Linked DNA regions of Homo sapiens. The protein of the gene in region 1 purifies or fractionates together with the protein of each later gene. This does not show direct contact. Each region holds a gene or a part of one and is shown on either strand. Other genes may lie near its edges.

Evidence for each region. Proteins that work in one complex are often made in the same cells at the same time.
Region 2: the proteins of GGH (region 1) and OS9 purify together in Homo sapiens (affinity purification with mass spectrometry; 3 studies listed by BioGRID and IntAct, with this or other methods). This does not show direct contact.
Region 3: the proteins of GGH (region 1) and CERCAM purify together in Homo sapiens (affinity purification with mass spectrometry; 3 studies listed by BioGRID and IntAct, with this or other methods). This does not show direct contact.

Annotation. Positions count from the first base shown.
Region 1 is NC_000008.11:63,028,803-63,035,850, forward strand, and holds part of GGH (gamma-glutamyl hydrolase isoform 1 precursor), read right to left. Parts: intron 6,969-7,048; coding exon 6,854-6,968; intron 1,416-6,853; coding exon 1,365-1,415; intron 1-1,364. UniProt on the Homo sapiens protein: Hydrolyzes the polyglutamate sidechains of pteroylpolyglutamates. Progressively removes gamma-glutamyl residues from pteroylpoly-gamma-glutamate to yield pteroyl-alpha-glutamate (folic acid) and free glutamate.
Region 2 is NC_000012.12:57,718,084-57,722,057, reverse strand, and holds the end of OS9 (protein OS-9 isoform 1 precursor), read right to left. Parts: intron 3,913-3,974; coding exon 3,637-3,912; intron 3,066-3,636; coding exon 2,876-3,065; intron 1,960-2,875; coding exon 1,795-1,959; intron 1,653-1,794; coding exon 1,540-1,652; intron 1,275-1,539; coding exon 1,149-1,274; 3' UTR 501-1,148; downstream 1-500. UniProt on the Homo sapiens protein: Lectin component of the HRD1 complex, which functions in endoplasmic reticulum (ER) quality control and ER-associated degradation (ERAD).
Region 3 is NC_000009.12:128,423,809-128,430,856, reverse strand, and holds part of CERCAM (inactive glycosyltransferase 25 family member 3 isoform a precursor), read right to left. Parts: intron 6,720-7,048; coding exon 6,585-6,719; intron 6,448-6,584; coding exon 6,243-6,447; intron 2,556-6,242; coding exon 2,436-2,555; intron 2,101-2,435; coding exon 2,024-2,100; intron 1,928-2,023; coding exon 1,821-1,927; intron 1-1,820. UniProt on the Homo sapiens protein: Probable cell adhesion protein involved in leukocyte transmigration across the blood-brain barrier. Does not express any beta-galactosyltransferase activity in vitro.

The DNA.
Region 1 (7,048 bases):
TTCCTGTCTACACTGCTACTTGATTCAGATTCCTCTCCAAACAGGAATGCAACTGGGGAGAGGGTGGGAAGAAAATGAAGTGTTTCAAAAGGTCTATTTTTGAGGTTCTACTATTATATTCTAGCCTAGACTTAATGATCTTTGTCCATGCCAAAGTACCTTGCACACAGCACATACTGGGCATTGTAAATGTTTTACTAAATTGAACTGATTTTATGGTAAATATTTACTGAACCAAACTGAACTGAAGGCAAATAATTTTCTAAACATAGCTTTTTAAAAGAAACAATAAATTAACATGGTTTTAGAAGTAAAAATAATAAAGCTCTTTTAAAAAAACATTTTACAGTAAAATACTTCCACCCTATTCCCAATCAGAAACAACTGCCATTAAAATCTGCTGTGTTGATTTGGTAGAAATATGCATATCTCTTCACCCCCACCTTTAACAAAAAGCAAACGGGGTGTATGCTATACACACCATCACGTGCCTTGCCTTTTTCACATAACACTATCACATTGTTCATAGGACAATGGTGATCTAAGTCAGCATCTACAGATAGCCGCATTTTTTAATTCCTGCATAGTATTCTATTGAATGTACATAGTCTGTTTTATTTAACCAATTCTCACCTGATGGATTACGGGGTGACTGTCAGACAATACTACTAATACAATGCATAGATTTGAGTCTAAGTCTTCATGCAAGGTGGGAATATATTTATAAAATAAAATTCCTCCTCAAGTTCCCAGGTCAAAGGGTATACGTGTTTCTAATTTCAATAGGTATTGCAATATTACCCCAAAAAAGACTACCTGATTTACATTCCCTCTAATAAAGTATGAGCACACTTGTTTCCTCACAGGCCCCATAGAGTATAAGCAAATTTTCTGATCTCTGCCAACATGGTAATTAAATGTTTTTGATTGCTGTAATTAGCCTTCTTTCCTAAAATTAAGAGTAATGGTGAATATTTTTTCCCAATTTACCTGAAAAAAAAAATCAACATCCTCAGACTTTGGACTTATAAACCCCATATGCAAGCAGTATGCCACGCCATTCAAGGTAGCTTCAAAACATTTAAGACAAGCATTAAAAGAACAAAGATTAAGTCACACATTTAAAAAAATTATGTGTGTCTACTATGTAACAATTATACATTTCCTAACCTGCCTCTTCCTCTTTTGAAGGACTTTTGCATCTCCCAAGAAAATAAATCCTATAAAAGAACTCAGAACACTAATACTATACCACTCTAAGACAGTTACATAGAAACATGTATAATATTTATATGATTTCTTTTACAAAAGCAGACATATGTAGACCACTCATATACCGTATGAAACCAATGCTGCCAACTTACCCATTAATAGATTTGAAAAGTATTTCATAGTCTTTCTCTGTAAGATCCAGCCTGAAAACAATAAAAGTTATTGTTACATTTGTGAAACTTAGAAGTAAACCTCTAAATGAAGTCTCCACATTTACTTTTAAAAAGCCAAATAAAAACAAATTTTTAATTACTAGACAATATTACCTCTCTACTTTTCTAGAGGCATTTTTGCAAACCACTTGAAAGCCACATCATTCTATCCTTGTTTTGCTAATCAGACAAGTAAATATGTTTTTCTGTGATCTAATGCAATTTAATATTGTGAAGTATGTGTTAGTATGCAAAAACAGTAAAGACCGTGAGATTTGGCCACCAGTAATTTCTCTACTAACCAAGAACTACAAAAAGAAATGTAAGAATATTCAGTAGTTTTATGTAAAGACTCCTTTAAATAACTTTATTTATCATGCCTATTTAACTACAGGAAGCTCTGGCAGATTAAAAAATGCATAAATAAATGCCAAGTCGCTGCCTGATCCCACCCCAACAAACTAGTTGCAACAGTCTAGGGACTACTCTGCATTTCAAAGTCAGGATGGTTCACATCTAGTCTGAACTGAGGACCACAGAGAGATGACTGTAGAACAGCCTAACTGCCCAGGTAATTACTCTGAAAGACCCTTGATCAAACACCCCTTAAGGGCCTCCTAACAATCGCCATGTTATTGGTGACTTTATTCCCTTTCTCCAGAAAAAAAAGATGGGCTTAATCTGTGACATATGGTGACAACATTTACTAAGTCACAGATATCTGCTCTCCCGAAAGTTCAATAAAATGCAACAATAAGGGAAGAGAGCACCAAGTTAGTGAAATCCTTGCAAGAACTCTCCCACATTTAGCAGCCTTCTGTTTCTGTGACAGAATAAATGGTACCTGTCCTCTCAACCTGCCCTAAAAGAAGTAGACTTATGATTAGATGTCAACTAGTCCATTTCTGCCCTCAAAGAAGTTTTAGGGGGAGGTAAAGTCCCTCACACCCATTATTAACTAGACACCTGTGATATCCAGAACACAGGCTGTGTTTTGCCAGCAAACAACTCTGGGATCTACTCTAAGTCCAAACAAGCTTTGCAAGTCCAGGTCTCTCACAAGTTCATAGTAATCTCTTCCTGGCGAGAGCCACAAAGCAATGGGTGATACCAGAATGGTGCTTACCATTCTTAAGTGGAGAAAATACTGACAGGTAGCCCTGCCTTGGGAAGTGATAGGGAGGTGAAATATCAATATACATGTACCCAGTATTCTGCCAGTCTAATCTCCCCAGATTGTGGCAACAAAAAGGAACCAGCCAGTCAGGACCCAGAATTCTCCCCATGGATATTTAAACCAAAATGGGCAACCATCGCCATCAGGGACCAAAATGGATTTAGATCACACAGCTGCACTCCAAGGATTCCTGCCAGCTAGCGGTGCAAGCTAGTTTCAGTCATTTCATTAATTCTAAATAAATGGCTCCCACACTGTCCATGACTATAGTTTTGGTCCCCATTTATCTCTATTAAGAGACCTAATTGTCACAGGGGAAGGAGTGTGCCATGTCACAACTCTGGTGCCTAGGGGCCCTGGCAGAGAATACAGCTGTTAGTTGCATGTTGTCAGACATTTTTTGAAACAAAAGTCCCTTTCAACAAGGTATGAGGAACAGTTTACTCTCTCCTTAACTGTAACGAAATGGCTTAAGCCTGGTGATGATGGCAAATGACACACAGCTTTAGCAGCATGAAAAGGATGGTAAGGCATTGTTGCCAATGGGGAGTGTTTGCCCCATTTAAAACTCAATCTAGATAACTGTCTTCAAAAGAAACAAAAATTCAGACTCTTATAAAGTTTGATTTGTGGTCTTTGGGGTTTTTTTGAGAAAGGTCTGGCTCTGTCACCCAGGCTGGAGTGCAGTAGCGCCATCTCAGCTCACTGTAACCTCCACCTCCTGGGCTCAAGTGATCCTCCCACCTCAGCCTCCTGAGTAGCTGGGCCCATAGGTGCACGCCACCACTCCCAGCTCATTTTTTAAAAATTTTTTATAGATAGGGGTTTTTCCATGTTGCCCAAGCTGGTCTCAAACTCATGAACTTAAGCGATCTTCCCACCTCAGCCTCCCAAAGTGCTGGGATAATAGACGTGAGCCACCGCGCCCAGCCTGATTCATGTTTTAAAACGCTGTGTGAACAAAACACGTTTTTAAACCAAAAGCAGCAGTCCATGGGCTCCTGTATGCTACCTCTGAGGAAGCAGGACATTCTCTTTTCCACTAGTCCCACATTGGGCATTTATGACAACCTGAGAGCACCAAGCGCCTGAGACAGAAGGGGCAGAAAGAAGGCAGAAGGAAACCAAAGACAAATTTCTGCATCTATTTCAGAATGCTTCCCAGGTCTCCCATCTCTTCCTTTTCACTTCTAAACCACAGAAGTTGACTCCCAGCATCCAAAATTCAGAAATGAACCTAACATCATCATGATCCAGTCTTATTTTGCATCAGGTAATCCTTCACAGGCTAGTCTATGAACTCACCCCATATGTATTACACTGTTTCTACAAGATCACATGATTCCAATATACCTTAAGTGAACTCTGAGAACCCAATTTGGAAATAAACCTGTATGCTGACAGTCGTGTTCTCAGCATCTCTCATAAATACCAATATTCTGCAAAGTCATCCACTTTCAAAACTCCCATGATTTCAAAACTTCCATCATCCTTATATATTTCTTCCTCCCTGTGCCCTTTTATTAGTCATCATGTACTGGTGATTTTTTTAAACAACACTTACCTATCATTCCCACACCACCAGTGTAAGCCAAGCCCTCAACACTTCACACCTAGACTACTGCAACTACCTCTAAACTGGTCTACCTGCCTTTAGGCATTTTGTTTTATTTTTTTAAAGACTTTATTTTTTAGAGTAATTTCAGGTTCACAGCAAAATTAAGAGAAGGTTAAGTATTTCCTTTATAACCCCTGCCCCAAAACATGTATAGCTTCCTCCATTAACATCTTGGGTGGTACACTGTAACAGTTGATAAAAATACACTGACACATCATAATTGCCCAAGACCTAGTTTACACTGGGGTTCATTCTTGGAATTGTACTGTCTTCAATTTTTTGGATGAGTTTGAGAAGGACTGGTATCAATTCTGCTTTAGATGTTTGGTAGAATTCACCAGTGAAGCCAGCTGGTCTTGGGCTTTTCTGTGTTGAGAGGCTCTTGATTACCATTTCAATCTCTCCACCAGTGACAGGTTTGTTACCTATTTCTTTATGATTCAGTCTTGGTAGACTGTGTGTTTCTAACAATTTATTCATTTCTTCTAGGTTACACATGTTGTTGGCATATAGTTTAAGTAGTCTTTTATGAACCTTTTTATTTCTGTAGCATTAGTTGTAATGTCTCCTCTTTCAGTTATGATTTTACTTCATTTATTTTTTATAATTTTAACTTTTATTTTAGATTCAGAGGGTACATGTGCAGATTTGCTACATGGGTATATTGTGTGATGCTGAGGTTTGGGGTACAAATGATCCTGTCACCCAGGTAGTGAGCACAGTATCCAATAGGTAGTTTTTCAGCCCTTATTGCCCTCCTCCTCTAGTAGCCGCCAGCATCTATTGCTGCCATCTTTGGGTCCATGTGTACCCAATGTTTAGCTCCCACTTATAAGTGAGAATATGTGGTATTTGGTTTTCTGTTTCTGCATTAATTCACTTGGGCCTCCAGCTGCATTCACATTGCAGCAAAGGATATGATTTCATTCTTTTTTATGGCTGCTCTGCCTTTTGTCTCTCCTTATATATATATATATATGTCTCTCCTTATATATATATATAATATATATAAAAATATATATATATTTTTATATATATCTCCCATCCACACGGTCAGCACTAACATCCCAGAAGAACAGCTTGCATTAAAAAGTTTCCCTGATGAAAACTTTGAAACACTGTTCTGAAGACTCTCTGGAGCCTCTTCCTCAGCTCTAAAACTCTGGCGTTATATGGGCTTCAAATAAAATTTCGTTTGAAAAATTAGATAGGCTACTAAAATATTAAAGACTAATATCAAAAGCAAATGGCAATCTTGGTGTAGAAACAGTTAATTTAAATGTAAAAGATCATACAAGAAGACAATTCTTATAAATCTAAACCTAAAGCCATTTTGTGGTACAATTCTCTAAATTGTAATATTTGCATTTTATTAGTAGTATTATATTTGAACAGTATTTTTGTTATAATTTTTGATGAGGAATTGTTTGCAAAAACAGGCTGTACAGAATAAATAGTGTTTTATGTGTGAAATCACTCAAAATGGATTAGATGAGGTGCTCAAAGATTCTAAAATACATTAATTTTAGCTGACAAGACATTACAAATCCTTATAAGATTCTGGTTGTTAGCTCCTTCCAGATGAAAAATATGGGAAGAATTCAGTTCTAAATGAAAATGAGATGAATCATTTTATTCTTATAGGAACATTTTATCACAAAAATAATGCAGTGCCTTTAAAACTGCAATACCTATAATCCACACTGAAGCAACCCTAATGCACTGGTAATTTACAAACTTTTAAAGTAGAGTGTGAAGGTATTTTAAAAGTCATCTTCTAAAAACCTCCTTCATTCCCTAACTGTTCTCTTATCCTAATATTATAGAACAAAGCTGGTTAAATTGTAGATTCATTAAAATTTTTTTCTTATTTCAATAGCCTTTGGGGTAAAAATGGTTTTTGGTTACATGCATGAACTGTATAGTGATGAAGTCTGAGATTTCAATGAACCAGCCACCCGAGCAATGTACACTGTACCCAATATGTAATTTTTTATCCCTCACCCCGCCCCCCCAACCACTTTAGATTATTTTACTCCATTACCTTCATAGTGTCTGTGAGAACCACCTTTTCTGGGATAAAGGAAACTATCATTTCATTCTTGATGTTAATGCATATGACATATGGTACCTCTAATGACGTTACAGGTAACACACAGCTTCCCACATTAAACAATTCAATGAGAGACTCTAAGCAACATGTTTGTGTCAAAAATCAGGTGCAATGTTACTGCATTTAAACAATGTAATCATAAGAGAGAAAGCACGAATTTTAGAGATATTAGGCAGTAATTATTATTTTGAGATGGAGTCTCGATCTGTTGCCCAAACTGGAGTGCAGTGGTGCGATCTCAACTCACTGCAACCTCCACCTCCCTGGTTCAAGCGATTCTCCTGCCTCAGCCTCCCCAGTAGCTGGGATTACAGGAGTGCACTACTGCACCCAGCTAATTTTTGTATTTTTAGTAGAGACAGGGCTTCACCAGGTTGGCCTGGCTGGTCTCGAACTCCTGACCTCAGTAGTCCACCCGCCTTGGCCTCCCAAAGTGCTAGAATTACAGGCATGAGGCACCGCACCCGTACGCAGCAATTTTTTATACAGAGTAAAAAAAAAAAAAAAACACTGAATCATACCTTACTGGTACAACTCTCGCACCTGCAGACTCCAAGTACTTTACATAGGACGCAGCAATATAGTATCTTCCATAGTTTTTCATGACTTTATTACGGCATTTTTGCATTAATATTCCTAATAACAAAAAAAAGTTTAGTTTCAAGCAAATTCCTTTTCTTCTTGCTCAGAAACTGAAATATATCACAGCAAAAATA
Region 2 (3,974 bases), on another chromosome or scaffold:
CCAGGCCCATGTACCCTTGGGCATACTAAGAAACTGGCATGTGTGGGCAGCAGCCCTCTCTCTGCGCATGCCCAAAGGTGGAGGTCTTTTTGGAAAATGTTGAAAGGACAGGTGGGTAGGGGTGTGGATGACAAATGGAATCTGGAGCATGATATGGGAGAGACCACAGCAGAAGGAAGATCCCCGCCGGGGGGAGCTCCATGGTGTGCATTTTGGCTTTCAGGGTATAAAGGGGGAAACAATAGGGAAAGACTTGGTGCAAAAGGGAAGGAACAGAAACAGACAGATGAGAAAAGGAAGATGACAGCATTGCAAGTGTTTCTTTCAATCCTTGCCAGGCCAGGCTTTGTTTAGCTACCCTGGTCTCTTCCTGCATACCCCAGCCCCCGTTTATAGTACCTGGGGAATGGGGAGCAAAGAACAGGATCAGAGCATGATCTGAAAAGAACACTGAGCCTTCTCCCTGCTGGAACCCCCACCCCACAAAAAAGGTTGATGGATTGATGGTCCAGTTGTTTATTTAGAAACCTGATTGTTCAAGAACATGGTGGGTGCTTCACACCTTTTTCACTGGGATTGTGCTGGAGGTGATAGGCAGCATTCTACCATTTCCTCAGCAACAGAGGTGAAGGCTCCTCAACTCAGAAGCACAAATTGTAGGGGACAGGGTGGGCAGGGAAAGGGAGAAGGAAATCCCAAGGCAATTCAATAGAAGAGGGTAAAACGACTCCAAACATCACTAAGGGCAGGTGGGGGCCTGCTTGCTCAGTGCCTGCTAAGTGTCCTGCCCTCCTTGCTCTCTCTACCCACCTCCACTCAAAAGATCCTACTGAATCTCCAGGTAGGCAGCAGGGAATATCCTATCATTAGGGGACAATAACAGGAAAAGCCACAGAGGAGAGGAAGAGGATTGAGTGAGAGTTCAGGAGAGCAAATATCACAGGCCCGGTGAGGTCTCAAGGTGGCTGCCAGCAGGGGCAGCAGCATTCACCCAGGGCCCCCACACCCACAGAGTTGCCCGAGAGGTCCACAGCTCAGCTCCACTCTGCTGTTTGGCCCTCAGGGGTTCCAGGGTGGGGAGGTGGGGAGGAGGCAAGCCAGTCCAGGAAGAGTCTGGATTCCGTGAAGGGTCAAGTGTAGTGTTGGTCTCAGAAGTCAAATTCGTCCAGGTCCCCTGTGCCCTCCCCACCTGGAGAGCCCCACACCCGGCGGTAATTGCTCTCCAGCTCTTTCTGCCGCTGGCGTTCCTTCTGGGCCTCTTCAGCTCCCGGCACCTGGTGGGAGAGGGTAGAGGTGGGCTGGAGCTACTGGCCGTTGAGCCCAGGGAAGTCCTGGGCCAGGCAGCTGGGGGAAGGCAGGGAATGAGGACACCCATGTCCTGAGGGGCTCTTCCTGCATGGCAGCACTCTGAGCCACTGGAACCCCAGCCTTGTCTTACAGATCAGGAAATGGAAGCTCAGCAATGGCGTGGCTGGGGCAAGCCCGCACCTCCACTCCAGGAGGGCTGGGGGCCAGGACTCGGGGGTAGAAGCCTCTTACCAAGATATTGAAGAAGATCTCCTTGAGGTTTCTCGTGTCCTCATCAGTCAGCCAACGTGCACCCTCTTCAGTCCCTTCAGCCCATGGGCGGACAATTTTGATCTCAATTTTCCCTGGAAAGGAGCAGTATGCAGTGAGAGGAGAGGATGGTTGGGAGCCTCAGGGCAGGCCCCCTGCCCCACTGGTCCCAGCCCCTCCACTTCCGGCAGCTTGCCCTTCCGACAGCACTGGGTCCAGCCGCCCTCCAGGGCCCACCTGCAGCTGTGAGTCCCTCCCTCTCCAGCAGCTCCTTCACCAGCCCCTCGATTTGTTTCAGCTGTGGGTTTTCCCGTTTCATCTCGAGGACAGTCAGATCCTGATTAGGGCCTCCGAGACGGAGCTTGGTGACCCGGACCCGGACTCTGTGCTCAGGATCCTCCTCTTAGAGGGGGAGACACACAGGGAAACACAAAGCAGAGGCGTGACTCCAGGGTTAGGGGTGTGGGGGTCATCTCCCCCTAAAACATCAGTTGGCTTTGGCAGCTCTTCCATCTCAACATGTATATGAGCCAGGGCTCAAAAAAATGTGTGCCCCGCCCCTCCCAGTTCAGCCTGTAGAGCTCCCTCCACCAATTGCAGCCTTCCATCTTCCCGCCCTACCCAATAATTCTGCCCGTCACCTATAGGAAAACAAATGTTTTCTAAAGCCAAAATCAGGCCACCTGCACCAACAAAGTTCTGTTTGAAGAAGCAGGTTGGAAAAGTGTGGTCTCCTCCTCCATATGTTGGGACTTTAAAGACATTTCAATGTTTATAGAGAGAGTGGGAATGGAAGGTTTGAAACTGGAACATTCCATTTAGAATATCTGATGTCCACACCCATAGGACACTATGAAATGGACACAAGGGGATACAAGAAGAAGAAATAATTTAAAGTCTATCCAAGCTATTGGCTCATGTGCAGCTGGGCTCTCCTATTCATGCCCTGACAGCTGGGGCCTCTCTTGGTGCAAAGTCCTAAAGTGGTTTTCAGCATATAGACTCACAAGCATTCAATTACTAGCTACTGATCATCCATTGTGTGCCAGGCAGAGTGCTAGGCACTGGGTGTACAGGAGCAAACCAGAAAACCAGCAGATATGCTCTAAAAGCTGCTTCCCAGAGGGATGAATAGGAGGTAAACACGCAAAGGGATGATGGTGTTGGGAAGCAGGCGCAAGTGAGGACAGTGTTCCAGAAAGTGGGGAGAGAATGAGCACCCTCAGAAGGGAAGGAACAGGGTCCCCTCTGGGAACAGAACCAGCTGAGGGATGAAAACAACAGACTGGGCTACTCTTTCTTGTCTGACTGCTCTCACCTGTAGGTTGGGGTGATGGGGGAGGCTTTTTGGGGACAACCCTCTTTTTCTTGTGCTTCTTCACCAGCTCTGGACTCTGTTTTTCCTCCAGTCTTTTGATGAGTTTGTTGAGAGTGGATGTGAGAGCCAGCATTGCCCGATCCCGCTCTGACTCCTTCTTCAGCCCATCTGGGTCCAGCTCTTTCTCTGTCTGGAATACCCAAGAGAAGAGAGTGAGTCAAGGGTCTGGGGTGTGGAGGCAGCCAGCGGGCTGGGCTCTGTAGGAGAGTCTGATATTTTGAAATGGAGTTTTGCTTATCACCCAGGCTGGAGTACAGTGGTGCCGTCTCGGCTCACTGCAACCTCCGCCTCCCGGGTTCGAGCGATTCTCTTGCCTCAGCCTTCCAAAGAGCTGGGATTACAGGTACCCACTGCCATGCCTGGCCAATTTGTTTGCATTTTTAGTAGAGAGGGTTTCGCCATGTTGGCCAGGCTGGTCTTGAACTCCTGACCTCAGGTGATCCGCTCACCTCGGCCTCCCAAAGTGCTGGGATTACAGGCGTGAGCCACCGCGCCTGGCCAGAGAGTCTGATATTTAAGTCTTGTCCCTCTCTCTGGTCCCCCTTCCCCAACAGCCCCGATTAATTAGGGAAACAGCTACCACTTCCAAGTGCCCCGTCCTTGCCCTGTGCTGTGCCCTCTGTTTCTTTTAGCCCGTCAGCCTGTCCTGCTCCACGGGACCAGGCGGCTGTGGAAGCAACAGGAGGAAGAGCTGGGCTTGCCTCCTGGATGATGTTTTCCAGTTCCCGCTCCATGCCAGCCTTCACCTCCGAACGGAGCCGGTCTCGGTCTGACGGAAGCAGGATCCCTTCCAGTTCCTTCTCAAATTCTCCCAGTAACTGCCGTTCATCCTCATCTTCATCCTCATCCTCATCCTCATCCTCCTCTTCTTCCATCTCTCTCTGCCGTTCTGGATCACCCCTTTCCTTCTCTGGTTCCCTCTGAGGGACTTCTGCAGCATCATCCACAGGCTGCTCTTGGCCTATATTTGGCTTCCCCTGGGTGGGTAGGGAGTGGGGAGAAAGACAGTTGGGGTTTCAACAGAGACACATGGTCGGGG
Region 3 (7,048 bases), on another chromosome or scaffold:
TTTAGTAGAGATGGGGTTTCACCATGTTGGCCAGGCTGGTCTCGAACTCCTGACCTCAGGTGATCCACCCACCTCAGCCTCCCAAAGTGCTGGGATTACAGGCATGAGCCACCACGCCCAGCCACCTCGGGAGTTCTGAGAGGATAACTATTAGGACATGTCCTAATATGATAAGACAGGGGTGACCCTTGAGGAAAGGGTGGGATGGTAGGGGGCTGCCTGAGGGGGAGGCACTCTAGGAAGAATGTGGGAACATGATAGATACTTCTTGGGCAGAGGCCCAAGCAAAGGATGGATAGCCTATGGTCAAGAGACCTCGGGGGATGTGGTGTCTCACACCTGTAATCCCAGTGCTTTGGGAGGCCAAGGTGGGAGGATTGCTTGAGGCCAGGAGTTCAAGACCAGCCTTGGCAACAGAGAAAAACCCCATCTCTCAAAAAAAAAATTTTTTTTGAGACAGAGTCTCACTGTTGTCGGCCCAGGCTGGAGTGCAATGGCACAATCTCGGCTCACTGCAACCTCTGCCTCCTGGGTTCCAGCAGTTCTCCTGACTCAGCCTCCCAAGTAGCTGAGATTACAGGCACCCACTACCACACCTGGCTAATTTTTGTACTTTTAGTAGAGAGGGGGTTTCACCATGTTGGTTGGCCAGGCTGGTCTCGAACTCCTGACCTCAGGTGATCCATCCATAACCTCCCAGAGTGCTGGGATTACAGGCATGAGCCACCGTGCCCAGTCAAAAATTTTTTTTCATTAGGTGGACATGGTGGTGCATGCCTGTAGTCCGTTATTCAGGAGGCTGAGGCAGGACGGTCACTTGAGGCCAGGAGTTCAAGACCAGCCTAGGCAACAGAGTGAGACCCTATCTCTATGAAAAAAAAACAAAACAAAACATTTTTTTTAATCCGGGTGTGGTGATGCAAGCCTGTAATCACAGCTACTTGGGAGGTGAGGGAGGAGAATCACTTAAAACCTGGGAGGCGGATGTTGCAGTGAGCCAAGATTGCGCCACTGCACTCCAGGCCTGGGCGACAGAGCGAGACTCTGCCTCAAAAAAAAAAAAAAATTCTTTTTAATTAGCTGGATGTGATAGTGCACACCTATAGTCCCAGTTACTCAGAAGGCTGAGGTGGGAGGATTACTTGAGCCCAGGAGTTTAAGGCAGCAGTGAGCCATGTTTGTGGCACCGCACTCCAGCCTGGGCAACAGACGGAGGGCAACAGACGGAGACGCTGTCTCTAAAAAAAAAATAAAAAGAGCTGAGTACTTGAAGCAAATGGCAGCCGACATATGGGGCCATAGGACCCCTGGTGGCTGGAGAAGCCTAGCCTCTGGGTTCCTCGGGGGAACATGGCTGGCCTTTCCTAATCCCCACGCATCAGTAGCTCAAGTCCAGGATGGAGAGTAATAATAAGGGAGACACCTAAGCCTTTGGAAACTATGTGCCCGGCCCTGGCTAACTTCACTAAACTCACAAAACCCTAAGAGAAGGGCACAGTTATCTGCTGTTTATACAAACGGGCTGAGAGATGGGGGTAGCTGGCTGGAGGTCACACATTCAGTAACTGGTAGAGCTGGAACCCAGGCCCTGGAGCCTCAGCCACTGTGCTCTCCTCCTCTGGTGAGCAGCAGGAGGGCATCTTCTCCCACGTGTGTCTGCTCCGGAACTCCCTGAGAGGATATTACTCAGACCCTATTTGGATACTACATGGGACAGGAAACTCATTCAACCTGTCTGCTTTTCCCAGTCCTAGCGGGCTAGGAGATGGACCACACTGCTTCCCCAAGCGCACAGGGCCCCCCCCACCAGGCAGGCTCACCAGCCATCCACAGCGTCCACCACCCTCCCAGAGATCTCCATCTCCCAGAGCGAGGCGAGCATGCGTTCCCGACGGTCAGGCCTGCGAGCCAGGCTGATGACAAAGACCTGGAGGAGGCAGGGGGGTGGGCGGTAAGTGCAAGGGAGCGGAAGAGGAGGGCCCATCCACCTCCTAACAGCGAGCCCACAGGCTGGGGGACTTACCTCGTCAAACCCTATCTTGCTGGGCCTCTTAGAGGGCCGAGTCACATGAGCTGAGGCCTGCATGCGGGGGCCGTCCACTGCAAAGGGAAGCACACCCCAAGCACGAGTCCCTACTGACTCCTGTTAGCAGTCACCCTGAAGTCCTAGCCCCCAGCCTCATTCCTGCCCCCTTTGGCAGAACACCCCACAGGACGGGACCTCAGAGATCACAGGATCCACCTGCCCCCATTGTAGGGATGCTAGACTAAGGCCCAACAGGGAAAGGGACTTTCTCAGAGTCATGGAACGAGTTAGGGACAAAGCTGGAACCCCAAGGCCAATGCCCGCTCCGTCCAGGGCCTAGGGAAAGGGGCACCGTGGGGAGGCAGGGAGCCCCGGCAGCAGGTGGGTGGAACAGTTCCCCAGCCCTCACCTAGTGCTTCTAAGATCAGGTGGATGAAGTTGACCCTCTCGTCTTCCAGCCCCTGGTGGGATTTCACCGGCACATTCATGTACCCATAACGGTGCTCATTGCACACGTGGACGGAGACCCCTGCAGAGACAGGCTGAGTGAGAGCTGCAGTGGAGGGTGGGGCTCTCAGAACCCAGCTGAAAGGTCCTAGGCCCAGCACTGCCAGTGACCCAACATGTCAGTCTTCTCTGGGACTCAGTTTCCCCACCTGTGGGACCAGAGGGAGAAAGGGCTTGGCTCACACAATATCTAAGGGGTCTTTCTACTGAAATGGTTCATTCATTCAATATACCTGTCCAGGGCACCCGCTGGGAGCCAGGGTTACGGCAGTGAGCAAGACTGAGTCCCTGCCCTCAGGGCATCAAGGTGAGGCAGGAGCAGACAAACTCCTACCCATCACAGCCACAGGGTGCCAGTGAGCCCCACTGCTCTGTCTCCTAAATCCCCCCACCTCTCCTGATCCCCACCACCCCACCTGGATCCAAGGGCCATCGCCTTTTCCCCACACCCCTCCACTTCACCTCACACCCTCTGGGGCTCCTCTCCACGATGTCTTTCACCTGGCAGCCAGAGTGGCCTTCCCCCGGCTTCAATATTTGTTACCTTTTTTTTTTTTTTGAGATGGAGTCCTGCTCTGTCACCGAGGCTGGAGTGCAATGGTGCGATCTTGGCTCATTACAACCTCTGTCTCCCAGGTTTGAGCAATTCTCCTGCCTCAGCCTCCTGAGTAGCTGGGAATACAGGTGTGCACCACCACATCCAGCTAATTTTTGTATTTTTAGTAGAGACGGAGTTTCGCCATGTTGGCCAGGATGGTCTCGAACTCCTGGCCTGAAGTGATCCACCCACCCTAGGCCATCCAAAGTGCTGGGATTACAGGCGTGAGCCACTGCACCCGGCCAATATTTGTTACCTTTATTATAATTATCCTCAGGGGCAGGCACACAGTGCCAATTAAAAAGCTAACCTAGGCGGGGCACAGTAGCTCACGCCTGTAATCCCAGCACTTTGGGAAGCCCAGGCAGGCAGATCATTTGAGGTCAGGAGTTCAAGACCAGCCTGGCCAACATGGTGAAACCCCATCTCTACTAAAAATACAAAAATTAACCGGCTGTGGTGGTGGCCGCCCGTAATCCCATCTACTTAGGAGGCTGAGGCAGGAGAATCACTTGAACCCGGGAGGCAGAGGTTGCAGTGAGCCAAAATCGCGCCACTGCACTCCAGCCTAGGCGACAGAACAAAGCTCTGTCTTAAAAAAAAACAAACAAAAAACAAATAAAAGCTAACCCTATTCCCAGCATTGAGCACAGAGCCTGGCCCAGAGCCGGGATGTAGTATCTGGCTGTTAGAGACTGAATTCCTTCAAACCATTGACCAATTAACAACGGCTGTCGCTTGAAGTAGGGCTAGCAAATTAAAAATAACAGAATGCTTTTGTTTCCTCTTGTGTTTTCCCCTCCAATTGTTTCACCTTCACTCACTTTTTGCACTTGGTAAGATTTCTTCTTGCATGTCTGCACACTGCAGACTTCTCCAGCACAAAACAAAGAATTACAACATCCTCCTTACCGGCTGCCACTGATTACTTGATTAAATCGTCACCTCTAATTTACCCTGAGCACCTGCAAAGTTCTTCTCCATGCACCAGATAGTCTTCAGGGTCGGAATTACATATTCTCTGCAGCCTTCTCAAGAGCTTCACTCCAACATCAGTGTCTCCACCCCTCCCTCTCATCCTCAGGACTGGATTTTTTTTTTTTTTTAAGACAGAGTCTCGCTCTGTCGCCCAGGCTGGAGTGCAGTGGCGCGATCTCGGCTCACTGCAAGCTCTGCCTCCTGCGTTCACACCATTCTCCTGCCTCAGCCTCCCGAGTAGCTGGGACTATAGGCACCCGCCACCATGCCTGGCTAATTTTTCGTATTTTTAGTAGAGACGGGGTTTCACCGTCTTAAGATGGTCTCAATCTCTTGACCTCGTGATCCACCTGCCTCGGCCTCCCAAAGTGCTTAGATTACAGGCGTGAGCCACCGCACCTGGCCAGGACTGGATTTATTCCATCCAAACCCAAACACTTTCTTACTCTCTGTTTTTTTTCAGACAGGGTCTCATCTTGTGTTGCCCAAGGTGGAGTACAGTGGCATGATCACAGTTTACTGCAGTCTCTACCTCCTGGGCTCAAGCGATCCTCCTGCCTCAGCCTCCCAGGAAGCTGGGACTACAGGCGTGGGCCAACACGCCAAGTTAATTTTTAAATTTTTTTGTAGAGATGGGATCTCGCAGCCGGGGGCGGTGGCTCACGCCTGTAATTGTAGCACTTTGGGAGGCTGCGGGGGCAGATCACTTGAGCCCAGGAGTTCAAGACCAGCCTGGGCAACACGGCAAAACCCCATCTCTACAAAAAATACAAAAATTAGCTGGGCATGGTGGTGTGCACCTGTGGTCCCAGCTACGTGGGAGGCTGAGGTGGGGGAGGTCAACACTGTAGTGAGCTGAGATTGTGCCACTGCACTCTAGCCTGGGAGCCACAGAGCAAGACTCCGTCTCAAAAAAAAAAAAAAAAAAAAAAGGCTGGGCTGGGCTCAGTGGCCCATGCCTGTAATCTCAGCACTTTGGGAGGCTGAGGCGGGCAGATCACCTGAGGTCAGGAGTTCGAGACGAGGCTGACCAACACGGAGAAACCCCGTCTCTACTAAAAACACAAAATTACCCAGGCGTGGCAGTGCATGCCTGTAATCCCAGCTACTCGGGAGGCTGAGGCAGGAGAACTGCTTGAACCCGGAAGGCAGAGGTTGCAGTGAGCCAAGATCACGCCATTGCACTCCAGCCTGGGCAACAAGAGCAAAACTCCATCTCAAAAAAAAAAAAAGGGCAGAAAAGAGATGAGGTCTTGCTATGTTGTCCAGGCTGGTCTCGAACTCCTGAGCTCAAGTGATTTCCCCTCCAGCCTCAGCTTCCCAAGACTTTGAGATTAGGGTCTGAGTCACCTTGCCTGGCCATACCCAAACTCTTTCTAGTAACTTTCATCTTGGCTGGGCGCGGTGGCTCACGCCTGTAATCCCAGCACTTTGGGAGGCCGAGGCGGGCAGATCACGAGGTCAGGAGATCGAGACCATCCTGGTTAACACGGTGAAACCCCATCTCTACTACAAATACAAAAATTAGCCGGGCGTGGTGGTGGGCGCCTGTAGTCCCAGCTACTCGGGAGGCTGAGGCAGGAGAATGGCTTGAACCCGGGAGGCGGAGCTTGCAGTGAGCCAAGATCGGCCACTGCACTCCAGCCTGGGCGACAGAGTGAGACTCTGTCCCAAAAACAACAACAACAACAACAACAAAAAACCTTTCATCTTAAAAGTAACCACTGGCTGGGCGGGTGGCTCACACCTGTAATGCCAGTACTTTGGGAGGCCGAGGCGGGTGGATCACCTGAGCTCAGGAGTTTTGAGACCAGCCTGACCAACATGGCAAAACCCCGTCTCTACTAAAAATACAAAAATTAGCTGGGTGTGGTGGCGGGTGCCTGTAATCCCAGCTACTCGGGAAGCTGAGGCAGGAAATCATTTGAACCCGGGAGGCAGAGTTTGCAGTGAGCCGAGATCACACCAAAAAAAAAAAAAAAGAGAGAGAAAAGAAAACTCATGACCCAAAGTTGTAACTCATGGGTTAACAGGATGAAATGCAGAGTAGGGAAGGGCATGGTAAGCAGCTGGAATAGCATGTGCAAATGTGCAGAGGCCTCCAAGGAATGCTAAAGGAGGGCTGGTCCTCACCAGCAGCCTGGCAGGCATAGGCGAAGACGATGATGTCGTCGAAAGGCCAAGTGTAGTTGGGATGTGGCGGGTAGAAAGCAAGCTGGTCTGCCCCTTCAGCCCGCAGGGATGCAAGGAAGGTGGAGTGGACCATGGGGACACGGAAGCAGCCCCGGCGCTGGCGGTTCTTGGTGGGGAAGTACTCGGCTGTGCGGCGGTAGTAGCCCTGGGGAAAAGGGATGCTTTGGGCTGTGAGAGGGCTCCCCTGCCCCTGCCCACAGACCCCAAGGCCTCAGGCTCTCTGCTCTCCACGTCCCTCCTTCCAGGACCTCAGTCCACCCAAGGCCCCCATCCCGGCCTCACCTGGGGGGTGATCCCACACCAGAAGTTGGAGTAGTAGGTCTGGGAGTCCAGCATTGGGGCCACCACTGGAAGCCCCTGCCCCATGAGAAGCCGCAGAGTCTGATTGTTGGTCAGAATGTTGTCTGTGTCTGCAAACTTTGAGGAGGGGACGTCACAGGCTCCAGCCCTGCCTGGGCTGCAGCCCCCCAAGGAGTTCACTGAGTGGTCCTGCCAGAGACCCAGCGTGGCTCCTAGGATCCAGTGGGAATGCTCTTACAGAGGTCTCACAAACTCAGTACATCTGTTTCTGGACCAAGGCTCTAGTCTGGGGCACTGACTCAGGGACTGGGTCCAGAGATTATACCTGAGTTACTGATCTAAGACCTTTATCTGGGATCTGGCTTAGAAAATGGATCCAAACACCTACTCTGAGCTCTAGTTCAGAGATCCAGGCTCAATTTATACCCTGGGCTCTAGCCCAGAAA